Linked DNA regions of Homo sapiens. The protein of the gene in region 1 interacts with the protein of each later gene in a pairwise test. Each region holds a gene or a part of one and is shown on either strand. Other genes may lie near its edges.

What was found.
Region 2: the proteins of IFI35 (region 1) and CYTH3 interact in binary tests that used the Homo sapiens proteins (3 or more experiments, as listed by UniProt).
Region 3: the proteins of IFI35 (region 1) and MAT2A interact in binary tests that used the Homo sapiens proteins (3 or more experiments, as listed by UniProt).

The regions. Positions count from the first base shown.
Region 1 is NC_000017.11:43,004,572-43,008,319, reverse strand, and holds the start of IFI35 (interferon-induced 35 kDa protein), read right to left. Parts: upstream 1,537-3,748; 5' UTR 1,373-1,536; coding exon 1,352-1,372; intron 1-1,351. UniProt on the Homo sapiens protein: Acts as a signaling pathway regulator involved in innate immune system response.
Region 2 is NC_000007.14:6,270,687-6,274,434, forward strand, and holds the start of CYTH3 (cytohesin-3), read right to left. Parts: upstream 1,939-3,748; 5' UTR 1,822-1,938; coding exon 1,788-1,821; intron 1-1,787. UniProt on the Homo sapiens protein: Promotes guanine-nucleotide exchange on ARF1 and ARF6. Promotes the activation of ARF factors through replacement of GDP with GTP. Plays a role in the epithelial polarization.
Region 3 is NC_000002.12:85,542,142-85,545,889, reverse strand, and holds the end of MAT2A (S-adenosylmethionine synthase), read right to left. Parts: intron 3,736-3,748; coding exon 3,517-3,735; intron 3,326-3,516; coding exon 3,143-3,325; intron 2,990-3,142; coding exon 2,856-2,989; intron 2,221-2,855; coding exon 2,118-2,220; 3' UTR 609-2,117; downstream 1-608. UniProt on the Homo sapiens protein: Catalyzes the formation of S-adenosylmethionine from methionine and ATP. The reaction comprises two steps that are both catalyzed by the same enzyme: formation of S-adenosylmethionine (AdoMet) and triphosphate, and subsequent hydrolysis of the triphosphate.

The DNA.
Region 1 (3,748 bases):
GCTTACACCTGTAATCCCAGCACTTTGGGAGCTTGAGGGGGGCAGATCACGAGGTCAGAAGATCAAGACCATCCCGGCTAACACGGTGAAACTCCATTTCTACTAAAAATACAAAAAATTAGCCAGGCATGGTGGAACGTGCCTGTACTCCCAGTTACTTGGGAGGCTGAGGCAGGAGAATCGCTTGAACCCGGGAGGCAGAGGTTGCAGTGAGCCGAGATCATGCCACTGTACTCCAGCCTAGGAGACAGAGTGAGACTCCGTCTCAAAAAAAAAAAAAAAAAAGGGATTGTCCTTGGGGAACTGGGGTTCTGAAAAGGTTGGCAATAATAATATTAAGAAGAAACACATATTGAATGCTCTGTAGGTGCTAAGCAGTGGGATAAGTTTTTACCGTGTTAATCTATGGATTACCTAGTGTGATTCTTAAAGTATAATTCTTATAGTATATATATATATATATATATATATAAATTTTGTGTGTGTGTGTGTGTGAGAGACAGTCTCCCTCTGTTGCCCAGAGTGGAGCATAGTGGTACAATCTCGGCTCACTGCAACCTCTGCCTCCCAGGTTCAAGCAATTCTCCCGCCTCAGTCTCCCTAGTAGCTGGGATTACAGGTGTGTGCCACCATGCCTGGCTAATTTTTGTGTTTTTAGTAGAGATGGGGTTTTGCTATGTTGGCCAGGCTGGTCTCGAACTCCTAACCTCAAGTGATCCACACGCCTCAGCCTCCCAAAGTGCTGGCTGGGATTACAGGTGTGAGCCAACACACCCAGCCTAATTCCTTTAGTTTAATTTTTTTTTTTTTTTTTTTAGACAGAGTCTCGCTGTGTCACCCAGGCTGGAGTGCAGTGATGCAATCTCGGCTCACTGCAACCTCCGCCTCCCAGGTTCAAGTGATTCTCCTGTCTCAGCCTCCCAAGTAGCTGGGATTACAGGCGCACACCACCACACACAGCTAATTTTTTGTATTTTAGTAGAGACGGATTTTCACTGTATTGCCAAGGCCTCCCAAAGTGCTAGGATGACAGGCGTGAGACACCACGCCCGGCCTAGAACAATTGTTATTTGGGTCACAGAACCCGCTGAGTATCTGATGGAAACTACAGATTCTCTCTCCAGAGAAGTGTACACACACAGGATTTAATGAGCTCCTCCTGTCTGAGGCAATAGGTTAGGGAACCAACTCTTGCAGAGGCAACCCCAGCCCTGTGTTTCTCCCCAGCCCTTCAGCAGGTCTGAGATGGGCAGGGTGAGGCTTGGCTGCCAGGCCCTGAGATATCTGCAGGTTCCTAGCCAAGAGGATTACTCCTGTTTCCCCACTTCCCAACTCCCTCCTCCTCACTTACGGCATCCAGTGGGGCTGACATGGGTCTCGGGTCTGTTTGGCAAGAGCTGAGGCTTCAGAGCTGGGCACAGTGGCAGAATTCACAGCAACTGAACTCTTGTTTGTACCCCCCAAAGGGCTGTGGTCTCTCTCAGCCCCAGCAAGACCCGAAATACACCTCAGGAGGCTCTGCTCGCAGGCTGTTTGCTTCCACTTTCATTTCCGTGAAATCCCTGCCTTCTGGCGCTCACATGCCGCCCCCTGCCGAGGCTTCCCCACCCCTGGGAGGAGCCTTCTTGGTCAGCAAAGTCGACTTCACTCAGCCAGGCTGCCTCAAGGAAAGCCACCTCACCCCAACTGCAAACTGGCCCCCATCAACCATTCCCAGCAATCTCCGACAAGCCCATTGGTAGACCCTGCTTTGTCAATGGATTATTTCCCTAGAGCCTAGAATAATGCTGGGCACATTGAACATTGATAAAATAATTGCTGAATGAGCTGGGTGCGGCGGCTCACACCTGTAATCCCAGCATTCTGGGAGGCCCAGGCGGGCAGATCACCTGAGGTCAGGAGTTAGAGACCAGCCTGGCCAACATGGTGAAACCCCACCTTTACTAAAAAAATACAAAAATTAGCCGGGCGTGGAGGTGCATTCCTGTAATCCCAGCTACTTGGGAGGCCGAGGCAGGAGAATAGCTGGAACCCGGAGGCAGAGGTTGCATTGAGCTGAGATGGTGCCATTGCACTCCAGCCTGGGTGACAAGAGTGAAACTCCATCTCAAAAAATAAATAAAACAATAATTGCTGAATGAATGAGAAACACAGTCAGGACAGATAACGCCCATAGTTCAAGTTCACAAAACTGCCGGGTGCGGTGGCTCACACCTGTAATCCCAGCACTTTGGGAGGCCCAGGTGGGCAGATCACCTGAGATCCCAAGTTAGACACCAGCCTGGCCAACGTGGTGAAACCCCGTCTTTACTAAAAAAATACAAAAATTATCCGGGTGTGGTGGTGTATTCCTGTAATCCCAGCTACTTGGGAGGCCGAGGCAGGAGAATAGCTGGAACCTGGGAGGCAGAGGTTGCATTGAGCCAAGATCGCGCTGTTGCACTCCAGCCTGAGTGACAAGAGCGAAACTCCATCTCAAAAAATAATAATTGCTGAATGAATGAGAAACACAATCAGGACAGATAAAGTCCACAGTTCAAGTTCACAAAACTGCCAGGCGCAGTGGCTCATGCCTTGTAATCCCAGCACTTTGGGAGGTCCAGGCGGGTGGATCACGAGACCATCCTGGCCACCATGGTGAAACCCTGTCCCTACTAAAATACAAAAAATTAGCCGGGCCGGATCACACCACTGCACTCCAGCCTGGGCAACAGAGTGAGATTCTGACTAAAAAAAAAAAAAAAGTGCCAATCCCAGCAGCTGGGCCCACTGGTAACATGTGCCTATAGTTCCAGCAGGTTGAGGCAGGAGGACTGCTTGAGCCCAGGAGTTCGAGGCCAGCCTGGGCAACACAGTGAATCTTGTCTCTTAAAAAAAAAAAAAAAAAAAAAAAAAAGGCTGGGTGCAGTGGCTCACGCCTGTAATCCCAGCACTTTGGGAGGCTGAGGCGGTGAATCACTTGAGGTCAGGAGTTTGAGACCAGCCTGACCAACATGGGGAAACCCTGTCTCTACTAAAAATACAAAAATTAGCCGGGCGTGGTGGCATGCGCCTGTAGTCCCAGCTACTCGGGAGGCTGAGACGGGGGAATCGCTTGAACCCGGGAGGCGGAGCTTGCAGTGAGCCGAGATCGTGCCACTGCACTCCAGCTGGGTGACAGAGCGAGACTCTGGCTCAAAAAAAAAAAAAAGAAAAAAGTTCACAAAACTGTTAACAGTGGCCAGCAAGGAGAGCTATCGTCTGCCCAACACGCTTGTGCCTTACATGAATTAACTCTTCAAAACAATGCCATGAAGTTGGTTCTATTTTCTTCACTTTACAGATGAGAAAATTGAGGCACAGAGCATTAGAAACTTGCCCAAGGTCACAGGGCTAGGAATCAAAGCATGGATCCAAACCTGGTAGGAACAGTATTTACACTTGGGCCTTGAGGTAGAGTGGAAAAAAATTTGCTGTATTTTTCCTCAAAAGTTTTAAATTCAGCCCCATTTCTGTGACCCTGAGTAGGCAAGCTACTTAATAGAAGTCTGTCTCAATAGAGATGCCTTAATACTTAAGTGTGTGAAGATTCAATTAAAAAGTTTCCTGGCTGGGTGCAGTGGCTCACACCTGTAATCCCAGCACTTTGGGACGCCAAGGTGGGTGGATCATGAGATCAGAAGTTCAAGACCATCCTGGCCAACATAGTGAAACCCCATCTCTTCTAAAAATACAAAAATTAGCTGGGTGTGGTAGCACACTCCTGTAG
Region 2 (3,748 bases), on another chromosome or scaffold:
TAAACAGCATAATACACATCTTTATACGTGAGGGGTTTATTTCAAGGTTGCTTCCCTGTGATATATTCCCAGAAGAGATACTAACAACCCAAGGACAATTTTAAGACTTTTGATACTTCATATCATCCTTTGTTATAGTACTCAAGACCTGCAAATTGCTGGAGCACATTAAAGCCTCCTCTTTTCCTCTTTATTCCTGCTTTAATCTTCAAGTCTACATTTCTTTACTCACAGAGCCCAAAGCACCTTACAAACAAAACTGCCAAGCCAGCTAGCTGCCTTGACGCTAATGTCCAACGTCTGCATATTACAGTTGTCTTTCTTTTCTAACAAGGGAAAACAGCTATGCCCAAATTGTGACAGGCAGGAAACACGACATCCACCGGGAACCCATTCCTTAGGATCTCATGGCTCCAGACAGCCTGACTGTAGGAGGGTTCGCAACTGGGCGCCTTCGTTCCACAGCGCTCCCATCAACACACCCACTCGGTGCCACAGTGCTACCCCTAGCTTCAACTATAAGAACTGAACTCGCCAAATGCCATGACGGGTGCCAACTTCCCACCATCCTGGCTGCATCGCGTCTTTCAGCAAAAAAACATCTCCCTCTGAGCAGCACTTGAATTCTGGAAGGCACCTTGATGATGAACCACTTCATCCTGAAGCATTCAATACTGCTGATTCTTACAGGCAGCTGCACCGGCAGCCTGTAATTAAGATTTCTCTAAACTGCTCCCTTATTACATGGGGTTCTGATGATTCTGATGATTTCTCTGTCAGCTCAAAGGAGATCTTCAGGAAAAAAAAAAAAAGTCTAGAGAACCTCAACTTCGGCTGTTCCTGTAAAAACACGGGCATTAACCCTTTGCTTTCCAAAGCGAACACCCACTCCATACAGAGGCACGTTCCTCTGTTTTTAAAATCTAATTCCCAGCATGACCCAGCAGTCATTTGTATTCCACTAAATAATTTCCAACAAACACGATTCCTCCAGCAAGAGGAAACCGAACGTCAGACACAGACCACCTGGGCCACGACGCGCATCGACCCGACCCACTCGGGAGCACACCTGGCTCCGGGCACACCTGGCTCTCCGGTCTTGCCTCTGTGCTGGGTGCAGCTCGTGTCTCCCACCCTCGGCTCCACGGAGTTTTTTGCTCAATCTGTCGCGTCTGCCGTTTCCTAAAACGTCTACCCTGAACTGAACTCCAGCTGGCCCCCTCCCCGTTCGAGCAAATCCAGCGACCGTTTCTGACCCAAAGCCAAGCAGACTGTCACGCTTTCCAACCGTTTCCCCTGCCCTCCCGTCCTGTACACTCGAGGAGCCTCCAGTGCAAAACTTTCCCCTCCCGGTTTCCCACCGGCTCAGCCGCTTCCGCCCACCTGAGCTGAAAGGGGGCGTCCGAAACGCCGGGCTCCGGAGGGCATGAACGCCCTTGGCGACAAGATGCGGGGAAGGTCGCCCCGCAAGGTCCCCCGCCCCAGAGGAGCGACACCCAAACCCCGGCCCGAGACTCCGGGGCGACCCCAGCCCGCGGCAGCCCCGGCCTGGTACCCAGACCCTCGCCAGCGCCGAACGGCGACCCCGGCCCGCCCCCTCCCTCGGCCCCCGGAGACCCAGCCTCGGCCCTGGCCCGGCGTGCCTCAGGCCTCCAGCGGACGCCGCTGCCGCTGCCCCCGACCCCGTCTCCTCCGGCGAACCCCGGCCCAGCGCCGCGCCCTCGACCCCCAGCCCCCGGCCCCCGACCCCAGGCCGCCGGCGAGCCCACCACACCTCCGACACTCACCGCCACCACCCTCGCCGCCGCCGTCTTCATCCATCTTGAGGCCACTCCCGCAGCCGGCGAGCCGGGGGCCGGCAGCAGAGGGGCCGCGGGCTGGGGACGCCGCCGGAGGGAGCGCGCAGGCGACCGGGCGGCTCCTCAGCGCGCGGCCCGGGTCGCGGCCGGGCCTCCTCCCGCCGGGCGGGGCCTCGCTGGTCGGCGTGCCGTCACGTGACCCATGCCCCGCCTCTGCCCGCGGTGGGCGGGGCGTGAGGCCGCGCAGCCCCGCCCTCGGGAACCGGCCGGGCCGGCGGCGTCTGCGCTGGGGAAGGCTGTAGACCTGGCCCCTGAAGTGCAGGCCGATCCGGTGTGCGTGGAGCGAAGCCTCCTCGCCCTCAGCATTCCAGTAGCCTGCGGACGGGCGTGGGGCCCCGGACACTGGAACGCCACACTCTGCAAAACCCAGTGGCCAGGGGTGCAACTTGCACGTGCACTCGGGGTAAAAGATCAAGAAACGAATGCATTCAGAAGTCAGGCCTGGCCAGGCTCGGTGGCTCACACCTGTATTCCAATACTTTGAGAGGCTGAGGTGGGAGGATCGCTGGAGAACAAAAGTTGGAGACCAGCCCCGATAACATAGCGACCCAGGCATGGTGGCATGTGCCTGTAGTTCCAGCTACTGGGGAGGCTGAGGTGGGAGGTCACGTCACTTGAGCCCAGTAGGTAGAGGCTGCAGTGAGTTATTATTGCACCACTGCACTCCAGTCTGGGTGACAGAGTGAGACCCTGTCTCAAAAAAAAAAAGAACAAGGTCAGGCCTTCTCCTTCCTAAGACATGCATGTCAGAAGAATTCCAGCCTTTCAGCTGTCTTATATTTAATGGAGCCTCTCCTCCTTCCCTCCTGGTGAGTGCATTTTTAAATTAACAAAATGCAGGGCTTGTAAATGAATGTGGTCATGAGGTTGGAACGGAATCCCGATTCAACACACCTGGGGCTCAGCTCTCAAAGGGCATTGTAGGGGTTGGCCAATCTGGCGGCTGATGCCCTTGGAGTTTAGCGCCAGTCTTCCTTGGAGAGCTGCCAGCTGTCCTGGATTTATGATGCAGGAGGAGCTCTGAATTCAGTTTCCCTTGGGCACAGCCAGGGTCCTCAGCACAGGCCTCCTGGGCAGAAGGCCTCCCCTGGCCCCTGCTCCACATCGATGGATCTCCTCTCTCACTCCCCATATCTCTCTTCCAGTAACTCCTGAAGCATTGCTTGTGGCCCCTCCCAAGCCTTTCTGTTGGAACTCAATCGCATTAAAGAAAAGCAAACATTGTAATGGAGGAGATAGCTCATCTCTAATATAATTTTCCAGCAACTGTTTTATATTTACAAGCTGTCCATTGAACCAAAGGATCCTTCCGTTGTCATCTATCAAAGTGGACAATTTCACCTTTTGGTTCAAGGTTGCGGGATGATTTCAAAGTTCAATCTTCTAATAACCTCAAGAATTGAACACCAAGCATTCTCATGCAACCAAACCCACGAGGGACACTTTTTTTTTGAGACAGGGTCTCGCTCTATTGCCCAGTCTGGCATGCAGTGTCTCGAGTGATCCTCACACTTCAGCCTCCCAAATAGCTGGGACCATAGGTACATGCCACCATGCATCGGTTAATTTTTGTATTCTTTTTTAGAGACGAGATCTTGCCATGTTTGCCCATGCTTGTCTCAAACTTCTGGACTCAAGCGATCCTCCCACCTTGACCTCCCGAAGTGCTGGGATTACAGGCATGAGCCACCACACCCAGCCAAGGGACACTGCTGCGTGCAAAGGTGTTTGACAGCTTGAGTGACAAAGAGGCACCAGAAAAGGGGTCTGGGAGTCAGGAGATGTAGGGTTCAACTCCCAACCCCCAGACTCGGCTTCCTGATCTTGTTCCCGTCAGCTTTGTCATCTTGGAGATAAGAGCATCGTTACTGAGAAAAAATGACAGCATT
Region 3 (3,748 bases), on another chromosome or scaffold:
ATTTATCTCTGCAAGATATTGACTAGAAATCACGTTTCAGAACTTCTCAGATGAAAACATCATACAACCCTTAAAACTAAGCTCATAATTTAAAAATGTATGCAGATTAATAGGCTTAAATTGCCAGGACTTTAGATAGACATTACCACTTCCAGGTTAATACTTTTAGCGGTTTTTATGCCTTCAATGGTTTGAAGCCCTCAACCTTAGTTGAAAACTTAAAAATGGCATTGAATGGCTGCTGCAATAAGGACACATGAATTTTGGCTTAAGTGGACTAGGAGGACTAAATCTTGCTTAGGCTTTTAAAAAATGCCCACCCACTGGGTCTAGGGATTGAGGTTATTTTCCTGAATTATGGCTAATTATGGATTACAATTCAAGGTTAAAGATACACATATAGTATTCTCAGGTTATTCATATGATAGCATTTTTTAAGAGCCAAAGTCTCAGTCACCCAGGCTGGAGTGCAGTGGCTTGATAATGGTTCGCTACAGCCTCCAACTTCTATGTTAAAGTGATCCTCCTACCTCAGCCTTTCAAAGTGTTGGGATTATAGGCACGTACCTATGGCCCCAAAGCACTTTAACAAATGAGTAACAGACACAGTTAAGGTAGAACCTAGCATTTTATTTAGATCTTCATTAAACTGTTGGAATTGAGAACCAGACATACGTAATAAACCTCCAAAAATAGATCCTGAAAGGCACTTTCTGCTTAGGGCAAGCAGTCATGGAATAAGCATGTAAACAAGCTGGCTTCTCTGTACCACACCAGCCAAGTCAGCTTTCTCCATGGCCAGCCGCACCAGCTCTGCCCTCCCTTCTGTTAACACCAGCCAGACCCCCTGTAGGTCTAACCCAAGGTTTTTCTGTAGGACACCTTGGCCTACCTGGGAATGCTGGAAACATGTTGTTAAAGGAATCATGGTGTTGAGAGAAAAAAAAAAAATCTTTTAAAAGCTGCCATCTGAGGTGATGGCTTCTCTGTACTTACGCCATACCCCAGAATACAATAAATAAGCAATTAGAAAACGTTCAAGTATGAAGGGATTTCCTCCTCCCCGCCAAAAGCACTGCTCTCTGAAGGAAGCTGGTTTCTCTGTAGCTACACCAGCTGTTCAGAAAGCTCATTGGACCTGGTTTTGAAAATAAAACAAAGTTAAAACCCTGGGAGGAGTTATTGTGCAGTGTGGAGTACTCAGGCTTTCTTATAAAGAAAAAAAAAAGTTATCTGGTACCAAAGTGTGCAACCTACAGACCCTCAGGTACTGCCCTGTGACTTCTCTGTATGACATCACAAGGCTGCCAAGTGCCTGTTTTTCTAGAACTAGGAGTTGGTGAGGTTTGGCTAGTGCTGAAACCATGCATAGGATTGGTTTACTAAATTAAAACCTTATTACGTACGTCCTCCAAAAGACAGCTGAAAGTGGAGAGATTTTGATTTGGTGCTGTTAGAGGTGGCAATTAAGAGCATAAGCACCAGGGAGATGGTTTAATGGTAACTGCCTTTTTTGATGTCAGGCTGGAGCTCCAACTGGGAACTTGCGTTACATGCAAGATTGATTGGATAGGGAACACTCCCTGACAAAGAGCTACATAATTAGAAATGGATCAAGTTACAGGGAGGATAAGGGGAAGGCTTCACATTCATAATAGAGCTCAAGACATTACAAATTCATGCTGACAGGGCTGTGGCATTGCCAGACAGAGGCTATAAGTGGAACTACAAGTACTTTACGTGCACATCACAAGGACATTTTCAGCATCTGGTGGGGAAAGTCAATGCAATTATGACTTTGGAGCGTTGGGTGATAGGGCACAAAGGTTCAATTTCAAAGCATTATTTACTACAGTGTTGTTTCTAGGCAGTTACATGGATCACCTATGCTCACTAAATTCATTATAATGGTGAACAAAACACCTAGGGACAGAATAGCAAGCCCAACTTACAGTCCCCCACAAAAGCTAAAATTCATGTCATTGACTAGAGTGACTGCAACTGGTCAGGAGCTGAAAGAGGACAGGAAAATTTAGGAAGGAGGGCCCTTTCCCTCAGAGCTTGAAGGCTTCTCTGTAGCCTACGCCAACAAGTCTGGGGAAAAAAGGCTAACACTTTCAATATTTAAGCTTTTTGGGCACTTCCCATGGGAAGCTGTCCCTACCAAAGTGGCCATAGGCTGCAGTCCTCTGATAAATTGGCTTCTTCAGATCCAGATCCCTGGAATATACAAGTCCGTAACTTAATATGTAGCATTAAATTAAAATAAAGCAAAACAATCAGCAAGACTCATTTTCAAGAGCTCTGGCAAATGAGTTCTCTGGGATATGCTAGGAAAAAAATTTGTGGCAAAAGTGTTACTTCCCTGGTGTCCAAACTCCTTGCACAGTCCTTATTAGTAACTATAGTTGTTTTTCCGTCCCTGGCTCAACAAATACGAAAACTTGTCATTATTCTGAGAAATTTCAATTGTCAAAAAGCTCACCTGAGATCACACAATACTTACCAAGGTCCCGCCGCCCACACCCTACCATGGTTTTTACATTGCAACAAACCTTGAGCAACCCACTTTATCTCTATTTTCTTAACACCCTTAAGTAGAAGAGCACAAAGCTCAAATATCAAATCTGGAACATTCTCTAGAGTGGTTAGCCTAAGCCATGGAGCACCGTAATTTTAAATTTCTCAAATAACTAAGTCTTCACTAAGGCAGCAGTTCAAAACTGTTCCAGGAATTAAAATATATTCCCATTTGAGGAGTCTTCCTTCACACCTTCACCTCCTCAGCCTTAAGTATATACACACACACCCAACACCCTCAATACTTGACTAGCAACAGGCTTTACCATCTTTACCTGACAATGACCCCAGGGCGGAGATCGAAATTCTTCTTCACAATCTCTAATAGCTCTCTCTCACTCTTCTGAGAGGTACCATAATGGAAAATGGAGATAGATAATGGATGAGAAACTCCAATAGCATAAGAGACCTAAAAGGATTCAAATGTCGTAAGAATCAGTGATTGCAAAGACCCATATACTTGTATAATACGTTGGTATAAAACAAGTAGTTAAGTAGATTACTACTAAATACCCTCCCACTTACATGACTTTTAATCGTTCGTTATATAAAGAGTGTATACCTGAACAAGAACCCTCCGGCACAGACCTCCTTTAACAAGGGATTTTGCCACCCAACGAGCAGCATAAGCAGCTGAACGGTCGACCTTGGTATAATCCTTTCCTGAAAAGGCACCTCCTCCATGAGCACCCCAACCGCCATAAGTGTCCACAATGATTTTGCGTCCAGTCAAACCAGCATCACCCTGAAATTACAGGATTTAAGTTACTTTACGCCTAGTGCTTTCCAAGTGGATTAGGTTGCCTATTCTGAATTCATTCAGCAAATATCCTCCGATGATTCACATGTAGGTTTCAGAAAGCCTGAAAAAAATGTAGTAGCCAAAATTTTAAGTAACCATCAAAAATCCAGAAAAATGCAACAAAATGACATTACCTGAGGCCCACCAATAACAAATCTGCCACTTGGCTGTAGGTGGTAGATTGTATCCTCATCAAGGTATTTCGCAGGCACAACTGCTTTGATGACTTTCTCCTTTAGGGCATCCCTCATTTCATCAAGACAAACCTCTTCATCATGCTGAACAGATATAACAATTGTGTGGACTCTGATGGGAAGCACAGCACCTCGATCCTGCATATACTGCACAGTAACCTTGAAGGCAACA